Linked DNA regions of Homo sapiens: region 2 is linked to region 1. A link means that fine-mapping ties the variant in region 1 to the expression of a gene that starts in the linked region. Tissue or cell type: whole blood. Region 1 holds a variant in brackets; the other region holds the start of a gene. All regions are shown on one strand. Distances are from middle to middle.

Evidence for each region. PIP is the estimated chance that this variant, and not a neighbour inherited with it, causes the effect.
Region 2: DNHD1 starts here. The variant in region 1 is fine-mapped to the expression of DNHD1 in whole blood (TOPMed, PIP above 0.99).

The regions. Positions count from the first base shown.
Region 1 is chr11:6,543,156-6,551,501 of GRCh38, forward strand. It overlaps DNHD1 (dynein heavy chain domain 1), which reads left to right. Exons shown (of 43, transcript NM_144666.3): 19 at 966-1,091; 20 at 1,419-1,516; 21 at 1,637-4,511; 22 at 4,708-4,885; 23 at 5,055-5,247; 24 at 5,490-5,778. Among named protein-coding and RNA genes, the nearest start is that of DNHD1, 50 kb to the left of the region's middle. The variant T/C (reference allele first, on the strand shown) is at 3,828.
Region 2 is chr11:6,493,112-6,501,111 of GRCh38, forward strand. It overlaps DNHD1 (dynein heavy chain domain 1), which reads left to right and starts at 4,169. Exons shown (of 43, transcript NM_144666.3): 1 at 4,169-4,220; 2 at 4,474-4,556; 3 at 4,660-5,850. The coding sequence starts at 5,105.

The DNA.
Region 1 (8,346 bases):
GTGACTCTGAGAGCAGGATAATGAGTTTTCTTCCCACCAGGGATGTTTGGAGAGTCCTACATGTGTCTGAATAAACCTCCTTTCTTGATTCTTCTCATTTTTACCCCAATTAGTGTCCCTACCTCATTTCCAGCCCTAGTCTTACCAAGCACTTGTGGCATGAAGGGATAACTCTTTAAGCAGCACCAGGGAGCCAAGCACTAAGACTATGAGAGAAAAGTTTGTTCTCAGCTTCTCTACCAAGACCCGTTTTAAGACAGAATGGGCATTCTTGCTATAGAAATATTACGTAGGGTCCTGGAGCCATTCAGCCCTCTTCCCGGGCTAGAGGCTCTAGTTCTTACAAAGCACTTCCATGGAGTTACGTGGATACTCATAGCAGCTAGTCAGGGAAATTAGCTGGCCTGGAGTCTGCCCACAGTGCCTTGGGAAAGGAGGAGCTTCTTCTCTCACCATTTTGAGACCCCAGTGCTTTACTGGCTCTACATATTGGCTGATGGAATCCTTAAAGGCAGAAAGGGCAGCTGGGCATGGTGGCTTACACCTGTAATCCTAGCACTTTGGGAGGCTGAGGTGGGTGGATCACCTGAGGTTGGGAGTTCGAGACCAGCCTGATGAACATGGTGAAACCCCGTCTCTACTAAACATACAAAAAATTAGCCGGACATGGTGGCACACACCTGTAATCCCAGCTACTCAGGAGGCTGAGGCAGGTGAATTGCTTGAACCCAGGAAGCATAGTACAGTGAGCTGAGATCGTGCCATTGCACTCTAGCCTGGGCAACAAAGCGAGACTCTGTCTCAAAAAAAAAAAAAAAAAAAAAAAAAAAGGGAAAGAAAAAGACAGAAAGGGCATCAGGGTCTCTGTAACTGCCTCTCCTGGAAGGTTCCCCTGGTCTCCTCTTCTCTCCCCCAGCCCCGGCCCTTGCCTCATCTGACTGCCAGTTCAGCTTTTTCTGTCTTAGATTACAGCAACCTGCAGGATTCCATCCAGGAAAGTCTTCAGGTGTTGTCCAAGATCTTGGCCATCGAAAAGTCAGGAGATTTAAACAAAATAGCTTTGGAGTGGGTGGCCATCATGCATGGCCTGGGTAAGTGCAGGCCTCTAGCCAGGCTGATGGGTGAGACCTGAGGCAGGATGTCCCAGAGGGATGGGGGTGAGAGGTGGAGGTTGGGTGGGAGAAGATATGAAGAACACAGTGAGGACCTCCTTCAGGGCTGTTTCTTGGGATGAAGAGATCAGGTTTTTATTCACAGTGAAAGTTTTTTCTCCCTCAAGCAAGTTCCCTGAGTCCTGCTGGGCAGAGTATTTTGCTTGGGCTGGTGGGGTACCTGAGAGGTCAGGAGCAGGGTGGACTCCCCTGCAGAAGGTAGAACCCTAGTGTTTCCCACCAGCATTCCTCTGGCTGCTTACACAGGTGCCCTGCTGGAGGTGTGGCTGACTTTCCAGCAGAAGTGGATTTTTCTGAATAAAGTTCTGCATGAGATGAAGATCCAGTTTCCTAATGCTGACCTGGTAGGGAAGGGGGTTGAGGCAGAGAGGGCAAGAAGGGTTCCTGAATAGCAGGGCTCAGCGTGGGAAAGGGGAGCTGCCACTTCATATTGGCCCTCACTTTTATCCTCTCCCTCACCACAGAACTCTCGTTTCAAGGTCATGGATGACCAGTATCGAACCCTGATGCGCATCTCTGTAGCTGACCCCATGGTTCTGTCACTTGTAGTGCCCAGTGCCGAGAGGAGCCCTTACTTCCAAGGCCAGCAGCTGCAACAACTGCTGCAAGCAGGATCGGTGGAGCTGGAGGGCATCATCATGAGTCTGGAGAGCGTGCTCTATGGGGTGTGTGCTCACTTCCCCCGCCTCTTCTTCCTTAGTGACAGTGAGCTGGTAGCCCTGCTGGCTGCTCGACTGGAATCATGCGAAGCCCAGCTATGGGTACGACGCTGCTTTCCTCATGTGCATGCTGTGAGCTTCAGGTCTTGCCCAACTGGTGAGAAAAACACAGATGACTGGGAGTCAAGCCCAAACACACAGACTCAGGTGGAGGCACTTGCAGTGCTAGGGGCAGGTGGGGAGGAGGTGAAGCTGCAGGGTCCCCTTCCTCTGCATCCAGATCTCCCTAAGTGGCTGGCCTCTCTGGAGAAGTGTCTGCGCTTGGCACTGGTGCACATGCTGCAGGGCTGTGTGGCTGCTCGCCTTGCTCGAGGCCCATCTCTAGGTGAGGCCCTCAAGCAACTGCCCAAGCAAAACAAGTTGTACCTGCAACTGTATGTCCAGCACTGGATCGACTTAGTCCAGGCCTTCCCATGGCAGTGTGTGCTGGTGGCAGAGGAGGTGGTATGGCGGGCCGAGATGGAGGAGGCTCTGCTTGAGTGGGGTACCCTGGCCATGGTCTCCATGCATATGCGCAAGCTTGAGGTACTGGTGAATTTTATGCGGGCCCAGAGGGCTTCCCAAGGTGGGCAGTCCCTGCCTTCTGTCCGCCAGACCAGCCTTCTCAGTGCCCTGCTGGTCATGGCAGTGACTCACCGGGATATAGCACAGCTGCTGGAACAGCACCAGGTCAGTGATCTCACAGACTTTCACTGGGTCCGCCAACTCAAGTATCACTTGGGTTCACCTCACATAATCCCCAAAAGCCCCCTACAGAGTCTTAAGACTATTGCATCTTCTGAACCCTCTCTGTCACCAGCGGCATGCTGGATAGATGTGCTAGGCAGGTCCTTCCTGTACAATTACGAGTATCTGGGACCTAGACTAGGGCCTCTACCCAGCCTACTGCCTGAACGGCCAGCCCTGGTACTATTATTGGCCCTAGAGGAGGTGGCCTGTGGGACCGTACTGGGTCCTAATGGTGTGGGCAAGAGAGCTATAGTGAACAGCCTGGCACAGGCCCTGGGCCGCCAGCTGGTGATGCTACCCTGCTCACCTCAGATAGAGGCTCAATGCCTGAGCAACTATCTGAATGGTGCCCTGCAGGGTGGTGCCTGGCTGCTGTTGGAGAAAGTTCATCAGCTGCCCCCTGGCTTGCTCTCTGCCCTGGGCCAGCGCCTGGGTGAACTGCACCACTTGTATGCCCCACTGTACCAGGAGGCTTCCCGAAACACAAGCACCATAGACCCCACCCAGCCCCAGCTCCTTGGCAGTAGCTTCTTTGAAAAACATCACGTGTCTGTGCGCCTTGGCTATGGCTGTCTCCTGGTACTGCGTGCCCTGAGCTCTGCTGTGCCTGCCAACCTGCACCTGCTGCTGCGGCCTGTGGCATTGGCATTGCCTGATCTGCGGCAAGTGGCAGAGCTGACTCTGCTGGGTGCAGGGATGAGGGATGCCTTCCAGATGGCTACCCGCCTATCCAAATTCTTCTCTCTAGAGCGTGAGCTGGTGTCTGGGCCCCTGCCCTGCCGCCTGCCACTGCTCAAGCAGATACTGGAAGACACAATACGGACACTAAATGTGACCAAGGAGGAACCGAAGTGCCAGAAGCCTCGCAGCCTAGCTGCCATTGAGGAGGCTGCCCTACTGCGCTCACCACTGTTTAGCATTCTCAATGGGCTCCACCTGCACAACCTCCGAGGGCTGTTGTGTGCGCTTTTCCCTAGCGCCAGCCAAGTGCTGGCAGAACCTATGACTTACAAGCTGATGAAGCCATTGGTGGTGGAGGAACTGCAACAGGTAGGTCTGGATCCCAGCCCTGACATTTTGGGGTCCTTGGAACAGTTGAGCCAGGCCCTGAGCCGGGCCTCAGGCATTCTGCTCCTGGGCCCTGCGGGCAGCGGCAAGACCACTTGTTGGCACAGCTTATTTAAGATCCAGAATCGGCTGGCAGCCA[T/C]GGAGGACACCTCAACCCAAGGCTGCCAGCCTGTGGAAATTACCCACCTGTACCCCAGTGGCCTCAGCCCCCAGGAGTTCCTGGGATGGCTAGAGGGCTCCTGCTGGCATCATGGCATCTTTCCCAAGGTACTTCGTGCAGCCGGTCAGTGTAACAACATGGGCCAAAAGAGGCAGACAGAGGAATCAATCGGGATCCAGCACTGGATAATATGTGATGGAGCCTCCAATGGTGCTTGGCTGGACTCCATCACTTGCCTCCTGAGTGAGCTTCCCCAGCTTAGTCTCCCCAGTGGACAGCAGATAGCACGACCCCCAGGCACCTTTCTCTTGATGGAGGTGGCTGACACAACAGGCATATCCCCCACAGTGGTAGGCTGTTGTGCCCTAGTCTGGTGTGGTGGAGAGCAGACTTGGCAGTGTATACTTAGTGCCCTGATGGCATCCCTTCCTTATGAGTACCGCCTGCAGCACCGGACAGTCGCTGAGCTCAACCACATGGCTGAGGTTCTGGTGCCTGCAACATTGCGATTCCTCACCTGCCAAGGTGTCAGCTCTCTGCTGCAGGTACACGGGCAGCAGGCTGTTTGTGCAGGTGTGGCAGAAGTTACCAGCATGGCACGCATCTTGCATAGTCTGCTTGACCTCCACCTTCGCCTAAAGGAGGAGAAGGCCCCTGGCCCAGGTGGGAAGATGGACGGGCTGGTTTGAGAGAGATGGGGCCTTAAGGGTAGCTGGGGTATATAGCTGGAGCCTGGGGCGTGTGTTCTTTGGTGGATCTGGGCCAGGAGTGAAAAGTAATACTGTCAACCTTTTTTCTTTCTTTCACCTTCCACCTTTTTCTACTGGGGCTCCTCTCGTGGCCATGGCAACTTTCACAGAGGACCTCAGCTATAGTGATCCTGTGGCCCAAAGCTTCAGGTCTTCAAAAAGCAGCTTTCTAAACCGGTCCCAGGTTGACAGTGACGATGTGCCAGATAAGTGCAGGGAACACTTGCTGGCTGTCAGCAGTTTTCTTTTTGCCTTGATCTGGGGCTTTGGAGCCCACCTTCCCTCCAGGTACCTACCAGGATGGGGGATGGGAGATGCAGAGGGCTGAGATGGACTGGCCCATGGAAGTAAAAACCCACATGACATCACTGTTAGGGTATGGTGGAGTGTGTGAGTGTGTCATAAATGGAAGTGTTGTAACTGTCTGACGCTTTTGCCTGTGTGTCCATCTGAGCAGGTTCTGGCCCATCTTTGATACCTTCATAAGGGATTCTATTAGTCGCCTCTCCAACTACCCTGAGCCACCACCCTCAGCCTTGGTGTTTGATCTACATGTAAGCCCTGAAGATGGAACACTGGTCCCCTTCACTGGCCAATACCTGAGCAGCCACATCAAAGGAACTTTGGGCACCTTTCACCCTTCTATCCAGGTGTGAGGACAGTAAGGCAAGAGCTGGGGTTAGAACTTCAGGACTTATTTTAGGGGTAATCCATGTTCAAAGATCAGCTGAGGCCCACTTGCTCCCTTTCTTTGATATATTTTCACAATCACAAGAATACATGAAATATTTTCCAAGTACAGCTCTAGGACAAGTCCCTTAGACTTTTATTTTCAGCTAGATTACTGTCTTATACTGGAGGTGCTGCAGTAAGTCCCACTTCTGTCTTGCAGACTGAACGGCTCTTGTATGTGGTGGACCTGCTTCTGTCAGGGGGACAGCCAGTGTTGCTGGCTGGAGAGGCAGCAACAGGGAAGTCAGCCTTTGTGGAGGTGCTGGTAGAGCCACATCACCCTTACATATACAGCCCCATCCACCCTGCCTTCAGTTCCTCCCACCTCCGTCTCCTGCTGAGCAGAGGAATCCAGGGCCAAACACAAGCCAGCCCACAGCCTGGGCATCACCAGGATTCTAAACCCTCCCTCCTCTTCTTGCTGGAGGACCTGCACCTAGCCACTTCTGGTGAGGAGCTGCGAAGAGGGAAGGAAGGAGCTACTGTCATCTCTTGAGACTATAAAATCCCTAGCAATATTCATTGACTCTCAAATATATGTCTGTAGATCTAACTTTAGTGTTCTGTTCTTAATATCTTCTCATTCTACATATGCTCCCTGAACAATCCCATCCACTCTCATGGCCTCATCTCTGCTTTGCTAAATCTCTGTGTCCAATCTCACTTCTTTTCTAAGCACCAGATCTGTCTATCCAGCTGTCTACTGTACGTCTCCACCTTGTTGTCCTGTTGGTACCTCAGACCCAACCCTGAGCTCATCATCTCCCCGCGGCCAAAATCTGCTCCTGTCTGTCCTCTTAGTTTCACCATCCAGCCAGTCATGTAAGCCAGAAATCTTGTTGACATCTCATTCTCCTTCACCAATATCCAGTCACCATGTCTTTTCAATCCTACCTCCTTCATATTTCTTGAATCTTTCCACTTATTTCCATGGTTCAGATGATCTTTACTTGGAAATCTGACAAATGCTCTTACAAAGCTTTCTGTGATGAGGCTTTCTTCTGTGTCCTCTTACACTCTCTCTAATTGGACTTAACAAGTCAGGCTTCCTCTAGACCCTGGGATTGCTGTCCTCTCTGCCTTCTCTATGTGGCTAAATTCTACTTATTATTTCTAAATTACCTAAGGCAGTAGCTTCTCCAGGAAGCCTGATCCATAGGCTCGGTTAGATATCCATCCTGTGCTCTGTACAATAATCTGTGATAACCATGATTTTATTATTGTATGCTTGCCTATCTGTCCCTTTCACCACACTTGGAGATTTATGAGAACAGAGAACAGAAATTTGTCTCATTCATTTTGGTAGACCCAACAGGAAGTAAGTGCTCAATAAAAGTTTGTAGAAGACAAGATAACAAAGGAAAGGAGAAAAATCTTGATAAAAATTTGGGATATTGAAGTGTAAAGTTTCTAAAGTGGTATGCCTCTAGATGATGAGAGTTTCTAAATATGGCCATGGGATTGGGAAGTGAATTTTAGGTAGAGGTTGTTGGAGTCAAGGAAGTCAATGGGCTGAAGCACTGGATAGGCTATCCAGTTAAACAGCGAAGTCTCTTATGAGATGTAGAAAACTTGAACCAGATGTATTCGTACTTAATAATAGCCAGTACAATTTATTGAATATCTACTATGTGCTCTATGATATGTCTATGTCATCTTCAGTGCTCATAAAAGCCAAGTAAGATGGGGAATTTTTGCAATTATTTTAAAGATGAAGAAACAGAGACAGAGATTTTAGAACTTGCCCAAGATACCCTAGCTATGAAGTGTCAGAACCAAGATTAAAATTCAAGTCTATTTGGTTCCAAAACCTGTAGTTCCTTCCAGCTATATTATTTGGTCTTTGCAATGAATTTGCACAAAATTAGAGACAATAGAAGGAGTAAAGAGTGGTACAGTCAGATATATGAAGAGATTTCAGCTGAGAAGAGACTTCAGCAACATTGTAGAGTGAAGAATATTACTGCTGGCAGAATGTAAAAGGTGTCCTTGAGTGACAACCACCAGAACATCCAGTATAAAATAAAAAATAAATAGACATGCCAACAAAAACCCCCAGAAAATAATGTGACCTGCTGTCAAGAAGAAGCAAGCAATAGAATAGAAACTGACCCTGAGATCTATATAGCTGTACGCTGTCCAAAAGATGCACTTTAAATATAAAAACACAGATAGATTAAAAGAAGTTTTTAATGCAAAATATTTACTACAGAAATAGTTTGCATAAGGAAGTTGATGTGGCAATATTAATACCAAAGCACTTTAAGACAAAGGATATTACCAGAGATAGAAAAGGACATCTCATAATTGAAAGATTCAACTCATCAGAAAGACAAAAGTCTTAAATGTGTCCACACCTAAAATAGACATTTAAGTATAGGGAAAAAAAGCCAATAGAAACAAAAGAGACATAGTAAATCTGAAATCATATTAAGAAATTAATATGCCTCTCACAATAACTGATAAGACAAGGAGCAAGAAAGTAGGGACATTAAAGATCTGAATAACACTAGCAACACACTGACATTTACAAAACATTATACTCACCAACTGCAAAATGCACCTTCTTTTCAAATGCACATGAAACATTCACCAAGATAGACCATATGCTGGGTTACAAAATAAGTCTCAACAAATTTCAAAGGATTAACATTTTAAATAATATTTTATCTGACCATAACAATACAAATATTGATAAGATGCCTAGAGAATTTCCAAATTCTTTAAAATTAACACACTTCTAAATAATGTACCAAAAAAGAAATTACAAGAGAAATTAGAGAATGTTTTGAACTAAATAATAATGAAAACAAAACATATCAAAATTTGTGAGATGCAACTAAAGGTTATAGCTTTAAATATCTATCTTAGAGAGAAAAGCTTGGAATCAATGACCTAAATTTTCAGCTTAAGACTCTAGAAAAAGAAGAGCAAGTTATACCCAAAGCAATTAAAAGGAAATCAATAATAAAGAACAGAGCAGAAATCAGTGAAATAGAAAAACATACAAACAATGG
Region 2 (8,000 bases), 50 kb before region 1:
TTATTATCTTCATTTTCAAAAAGTGAAACTGAGGTAAAATATCCCATGACTAGTAAGTGATGAAGTTAGGATTTCAATCCAGGCAGTCTGATTCCAGAGCCCATCTTCTTACTCACAAATGAAGATTGTTATACATTTATGTATTTTTTTCCATGAATATTTTCTGATCATGTACTCATGGTGCCTAGTATAGGAGCTGGGGATAGAGTAGGCAGCAATCAGAATCTCTGCTACCATGGAGCTTATATTTCTAGTCAGGGGAAATAGGAAATAAATAAGTATTTATATGAAGTGGTAATAAGTGCTGTGGAGAGAAGTAATGCAAGTAAAGAGGATAAGGATGTTGGGGAGAGAGTTGCTATTTTCTGTTGGGCAGTTAGGGAAGAACTCACTAATAAGGTGACATTTGAGCAGAGAATTGAGAGAGTAAGCCTTGAGAGCATCTTGAAGAAGTGTTCACTCTTCTACTGTTCAACTAGTTGTGTAAACCACTAGTGGTCCTCTAGTATCCATTGTCTCCTTTCTTTATGTAAAGAACCTCTAAATTTTCTGTTGGCATATGACCACTGAAAATGAAGATTAGATTTTGTAGCTTTCCTTACAGCTAGGCTTGGTCATGTGATTGATGTGTGCAGTTGCCAGGCTGTGCCCTTAAAAGAAAGGGTATGCCTTCTCCTTTCCTTTTCCCTCCATCTCACTAGTTGGGATGGGACGTGGCACACATGGTGGTAAATTATTTTGGACCTTAAAGATGAGGACTACTTCCTTGGAGAAGGCAGAACAACTGAAGGCTACCGTGGTAGCCTCAGAGTACTTATATTTGGATGGTTATGTGAGAGAAAAAAATAAACTATCATGTTTAAGCCATGATATTTTGGGTCTTTTTATTACAGCATTTGTGTGGTAGGTAGAAGTTTTAGATCAGGGGTCCCCAACCCCCGGGCCACAGACTGGTACCAGTCATGGCCTGTTAGGAACCAGGCTACACAGCAGGAGGTGAGTGGTGGGTGAGCAGGTGAAGCTTCATCTGTATTTACAGCCACTCTCCATCGCTCACATTACTACCTGAGCTCTGCCTCTTGTCAGATCATTGGTGGCATTAGATTCTCATAGGAGCATGAACCCTATTGTGAATAGCACATGCTAGGTGGCATGCTCCTTATGAGAATCTAATGTCTGATGATCTGTCACTGTCTCCCATCACCCCCAGATCGGATTGTCTAGTTGCAGGAAAACAAGCTCAGGGCTCCCACTGATTCTACATTATGGTGAGTTGTATAATTATTATATATTACAATGTGATAGTAAAATAAGTAAAGCTCACAATAAATGTAATGCATTTGAATCATCCTGAAACCGTTAACCCCTCCCCTGGTCCGTGGAAAAATTGTCTTCCACTACACTGGTCCATGGTGCCAAAAAGGTTGGGGACCACTGTCTCTGAGATTTCCTGCTCTCTAGTATATATCTCCCTAGTATACGCTGCATATTCCATGGGACTGTGAATGTGACAAATTTTACTTATGTGAGAAGGTTATAATATATGGCATAGTTGACTGTAAGAGCGATTGTCTGGGTGGGCCTGATCTAGTCACATGAGTCACATGAGCCCTTTAAAAGCAGAGTGTTTTCTTTATGGTTGCAGAAGGGGACATCAGAAAAGTGTGAAGCATGAGAAGGGTTAGAGGCACTGTTGTTGGCTTGAAAATGGAGGAACCACATGTCAAGGAAGACAGGTGGCCTCTAGGACCTGAGAGTGGCTCCTGGCTAATGGCCATGAAGAAAACAGGGACATCAGTCTTAGAACTGCAAGAAACTGAATCTTGCCAACAACAATAATAGCTTGGAAGTGGATCCCCCCACACCCCCCACCCCCTAGAGCCACCAGATGAGTAGCCCCGTCAACATGTTGACTTCAGGCTTATGATACCCTGAGCAAAGAATCCAGTAAAGTCATGCTGGACATCTGATCTACAGAACTGTGAGGTACTACATAGGTGTTGTTTTTAAGCTGCTTAGTTTGTAATAACTTGTTATGCAGCTCCAGAAAACTTGCGCGTTAGTGGGGGTTCTCCAGAGAAACAGAACTGATAGGCTGAGAAGTCCCACAATCTGCTGTCTACAAACTAGAGAACCAGGAAATCTGGTGGTGGAATTCAATCCAAGTTTGAAGGCCTGAGAACCAGGAGCACTGATGTCCATGGACAGAAGATGAATGTCTCAGCTAAAACAGCAAGTCCACCAGCTGCCTGTTTAAATTCTGTTTAGGCAACAGATTGTACAATGCCCATCCACATTGGTGAGGATGATCTTTACTTAGTCTACCTATTCAAATACTAATCTCTTCCAGGAATACCCTCAAAGACACACCCAGAAATAATGCTTTACCAGCTATCTGAGCATCCCTTAGCTCCGTCAAATTGACAAATAAAATTAACCATCACAGCCGGGCATAATAGCTCGCGCCTGTAATCCCAGCACTTTAGGGGTGAGGTGGGAGGATTGCTAGAGGCCAGAGGCTCGAGACCAGCCTGGGCAACATAGTGAGACCCTGTCTCTACAAAAAAATAAATAAATAACAGTCATAACTTGTGTATCTCCTAACTGATACACAAGCAGACAGCACAGCTTGTATGTAGTCTGTGAGGTGGGGGTATGGCTGGTGTGATTCAGGCACAGCAGTAGTAGAGTGTGAATGTGAAGAGAGAAGCCTACAGAGGTAGCAGGCAGTTATCAGCAATTTGTAGGCCATGATAGGACTTTGGCCTTCAGCTGAAGGAATTAGATGAGGGGGCATTAGTGAGCTATGAGCAGAGGAGTTATAGGATCTGCCTATATTTGAAAAGGATCACTGGCTGCTCTAAAAAGAATGGATTGTAGGGGCAATGGTGAGAAGCATGAGAAGGATCTGAGGCAAGGAGAACAGTTCAAAGGCTGTGGAAAAACCCAGGTGAGAAATGATAGCAGCTTAGACCAAGGTTGTAGTACTTAAGATGGTGGGAAATAGTTGGATTCTGGATATATTCTGAAGGCACAACCAGCAGAATTTCCTGAAGGATTACTTATGGAGGGAGGGGGAGAGAGAGAAAGAGAAAGGGAAAAAGAAGAGGGAAAGAGAAAGAAGGGGTTTGGAAGAGGTCTCAAAGCTGACTCCAAGGTTTTGGTGTGAGAAACCAGAAAGAATGGATTTGCCATTGACTGAGGTGGGAAAGACAGTGAAAGGAGCAGCATTTCTTTGGTGGGGAAAGGGTGGTTAGGAGCCTGCTTTTGGACATTTTAAGTTTGAGATACCTATAAGCTCTCCAGGTGGAGACATTAAGTAGGCAGTTGGATATACTAATCTGATTTCAGAGGAGAGGTGGGCTGAATTTCTTTTTTTATTTTAATCATCAACTTTTTTTTTTTTTTTTTTTTTTTTGAGATAGAGTCTCCCTCTGTCGCCCAGGCTGGAGTGCAGTGGCGCGATCTCTGCTCACTGCAAGCTCCGCCTCCTGGGTTCACGCCATTCTCCTGCCTCAGCCTCCCCAGTAGCTGGGACTACAGGCGCCCACCGCCACGCTCGGCTAATTTTTTTGTATTTTTAGTAGAGACAGGGTTTCACCGTGTTAGCCAGGATGGTCTCGATCTCCTGACCTCGTGATCCACCCGCCTCGGCCTCTCAAAATGCTGGGATTACAGGCATGAGCCACCGCGCCCGGCCTCATTCAACTTAATTTTTAAAAATTAGCCCCTCCATAAGCCCTTCCCCAAAAAATCCCCCTCCCCCCGTGCCAAATAGATGTTGAGCTCCTTGAGATCAAGGATTTTGTTTTATTCGGGCTTCTTTTGGGGAGGTGGGATAGGGTAGATGGATACGTTGGGGGTGGGGATGGGGGAGTACCAAAGACATACCAAAGACCTGGCACTAGTTTAGATACTCAGCGAATGGATATAAACACCTGCTTACGACACCCTCTGGATTGCTAGTCTCCCGAGTCAACCGTACTGCACGTGCAGTTCAGACCCCGCCTGGTCCTCTACAGGTCCCTGTCCCAGGCAAGCCTTAGCCCACAGGTTGAACCTAGTTCTGCCCCTCCAGGCTTGGGCTCTGCCCTCTCGGCCCCGCCCATATCGGACCCTGGCCCCTCCTCTTTCTGGCTCCCCCGGATGCTCCTGGCAAAGACTCGGTCCTTCTGGAATCTTGTAACGGTTCTAACAGCTGGGTGCGGGTGGAGCTGCGGGTGAGTCCTCGGCTCCGGATCCATTTCTCTTTGTTCCCTAGGACCCCCTCCCACAGAGTCCGCCTCCTCTTCCCCGCTCTCCCAGCCCCCTCCTTTGCCTGTTAACGTCTTCCCCTACCTGCATCCTGACCATCATTTGCTGTGCCTGCTCCTCGGCTTTCTGTCTTCACGACCTCCTTAGGCTGTGGGCGAAGACGTCATGGGACTGGGGCTCTGCTGCCTTCGAGTGACGACCTGTTAACCCGTTTTTCAGGCGATCGCCAGCTCGAGTGCAGATTCCTTGCTGTGACCGAGGTTCAGAGTGAGCTCTGTCGGTGTGTCAGTTTGCCTCTTCAGGTGATTGCACGTCTGTGTGCGAGTCTCTCCGTGTATGGGTGGCTATGATTAGGGTGAGCCTCAGACTGGAACTCAAGTCTAAGTTCATTCACTGCTCCAGCAGGCACTCTTCAATGAAACCTCATCAGCAGATCGGGCTCTCTTCCCTTGCCTTGCCTCCTAACCCCCCTAGGCCAGGTGAGGGGGACAGGGTACTGGGAGGTAAGAAGGAACTCTTCTGCAAGGAGGGCTCTCACGTCTGTCTTAGGCCTGCTCCTTACCAGAGTCTTTGGGGAAGCAGTAGGGAGGGCCTGAGGGTCTCAGGAAAGGCTCTCTGCTGGTCTGGCTCTGCTCTGTAGCTCCATCTATTTCCCTGTCCCAGGTCCTTTCTTCCTCCTAACCCCATTGACTCTGACCATCCCCTGCCCAGAGCCTGAGGTCCCTTCTCTGGCCCCTCTGCTGGGCTGGCCCATGCAGGTGAGGCCCCGCATCTGGCATCCTGGAACTGGCAGTTGGAGCCTGAGCTATGGGCAAGGTCACTTCGACAGCAGTTGAATGCCCAGCTCCTCATGGTCCCGGAGGAGAGGAGGGTAGGTTTGTCTTCTGATGAGACATCATCTGATTCCCTTAAGTCTTGGCACTCCATATGTGTCTTGGACAGCAAAGAACAGCCCTTGGCCTGCCAGCAGAAACAGAGGCAGTTCGTGAAGCCAGTGACTGAGTCAGAGCAGCCCACAGTGCTGGAACTCCTGCTAGCTGAGCTCCGAACTCTGTTCTCAGCTGTGTTGCAGGACAGTAGCCCTGCAGCTTGGCGCTATCTTCATGCAGTACTGGGTCTACTGCCTCCATATCGTGAGTTGCTAGTTGGCCACCTTGATTTGCTGCCCTTCCTGGAGCAGCTGTACTGCTGGGCACCCTGGGTCCAAACCCACCTCCATCTGGACCTGCTAGGTGCCATTGTCCAGGCCTTTCCTCCAGACAGCTCTTTGTTAGACAGTGCTTCCCATGCTGACTGCTGTCCCCAGAAGCGGAGGCTCCATCACAGGCCCCCATGCCCAGCTTGCCCTTTTGTGCAGGCCCAGTGGAGCAGGCAGCAAGTAAAGGAGGAGCTGGCCACCTGGCTGCGACCATTGACACTGCCTGAGCTACAGCGCTGCCTGGGCATTGTTGGTGCTCAGGTGGCCCTAGAAGAGGCTGTGTGGCTGGATGGACTTAGTCTCCTTCCCTTGGCACTGGCAGCGGACATCCCTGTACGGTATGAAAGCAGTGACACTGACAATGCAGAGGTGGAGCCTGTTGGAAGAAAAGAGACCAGGTAAGTGAGGGACTCAGTCTAGGGCTTGAGCAGAGGAGAAAAAGTTGCTGTTTTATGGGTGCCTCTGGGGTCACTTGGAAGTTTAGATCCAGCTCTCTGTTTATCACAGGGATTAGCCCAACTCCACACAAAGCTAGTGTGAGGCTACTTTCCTCTTCCTTTTTCTCTGCAAAATAAACCCAGTGGTGTTAGTCTTAATCCCCATAGAGAAATACAGAAATTAATGAAAATCAGAAGTCAGCTATGAGGCAGCCAAAGCTTTAGAATAACAGCTTGACTTTTCAGTTTCCAGGTTTTTTTCTTAGATGATGTCAGAAGTCTCCTTAATTATTTTTCTATAATTCATTCATAATCACTGAACATTGCCTGGGCCTACTGTGAGTTGATTCCTGGATGTTGGGTCTTTCCCTCAAGGTACCCCTGGGGAATGTGTGTCCGAGTGTCCTTCCCACATGTCTATGTGACTTAAACCGGCTCCAAGGCAGAGTGGAGTTGGCAGCACTACTGGATAGAATTTCATTTTGACCCTTCCAGAGTCTTCTTCTTGCCCTGCCAGTGTGGGCACTCTGGCCCCTTGAGTGATATATTTTTCTTTTGTTTCTTTCTTTCTTTCTTTCCTTTTTTGAGATAGAGTCTCACTCTGTCGCCCAGGCTGGAGTGCAACGGCATGGTCTCGGTTCACCGCAACCTCCGCCTCCCGGGTTCAAGTGATTCTCCTGCCTCAGCCTCCTGAGTAGCTGGGACTACAGGCACGTGCCACCATACTCAGCTAATTTTTATATTTTTAGTAGAGACGGAGTTTCACTATGTTGGCCAGGCTGGTCTCGAATTCCTGACCTCATGATCCGCCCACCTCTGCCTCCCAAAGTGCTGGGATTACAGGCGTGAGTCACTGCGCCCGGCCCTATTGTTTTCTTTTTTAAAATATCTGGCTATCAGAGCTCTCTACAGGATTTCAGAATGCTTACAGAGACCTTCTCTTCTCAGCGTTCTCTAACTTTCGATTTTTTTTTTTTTTTCTGAAACAGAGTCTCACTCTGTCGCCCAGGCTAGAGTGCAGTGGCCTGACCTTGGCTCACTGCAACCTCTGCCTCACAGGTTCAAGCGATTCTTTTGCCTCAGCCTCCCGAGTAGCTGGGATTACAGGCTCATGCCACCACGCTCAGCTGATTTTTGTATTTTCAGTAGAGACAGTGTTTCGCCATGTTGACCAGGCTAGGTTTCCAACTCCTGGTCTCAAGTGATCTGCTCACCTCGGCCTCCCAAAATGCTGGGATTACAGGCATAAGCCACCGTGCCCAAGAGAGTTTTTTAACTTTAGTTTTGGAATTCTCCTTGTCCTCTGGCCTCATTTTCTAGACAATGCTTTGCAGCTGTCTGTGGCACATTTACTGTTCGGGAAGAAGGCTAGTTTTACCTTTAATTAAGGTTGGCTTCCTCAGTTTTTGCTGTAAGTTTATGGCTGGGTCAAGTCTTTCCATTAAAGCCTAATGTTAGATAGATAGGCAGGCTCCTGGGGCCCTAATGGGAGGTGGCCAATGCCATAAATTTATGGTGGCCCTATTGGAATCTTTTCCTTTTTCAAAGAGCTGCCCTGTGCCTTGAGTACAAGTTTCCTTTCCTGGGAGAACTTGACTGAATTGGCATGGGCTGAGATGTTGGGAAGGGATCAAGTTCTTTGCCCTCCCTTTGAACCTGGCAGTAAACCTCTGAGGTCTAGCTAATATGGCTTAATTTGCATTACGTTCTCCCGGAGTGGTTTGCCAGGCATTCATTCATTCAATAAGTGTTGGATAGCTACATTTATTAGGATCTGCAAGATGCTAGGGATACAGAAGTGAATGAGACAGACTCAATCCCTTCACTTGAGGTATTACAGTTTAGTTAGGGAGATATAGTTAAGTTGATAACAAGTAAAATATAATTACAAATTGTAATAAGTGCTATAAAACAAAAGAATACTGTCTTTTGCCTGGCTGCTTCTCTGCAGGTGGGAGAGAGAGAGAGAGGGAGTGTAGTTAGGGGGAAAGCATGTGGGGGGAGTGTTCAAGTCTAGATTAGATTAACAAAAACATCAAACAGAGTTTCAAGGAGGAGGGAGCAGTCAGTAGTATTACATGTTAAATGAGACAAGTAAGAAGAATGAAAAT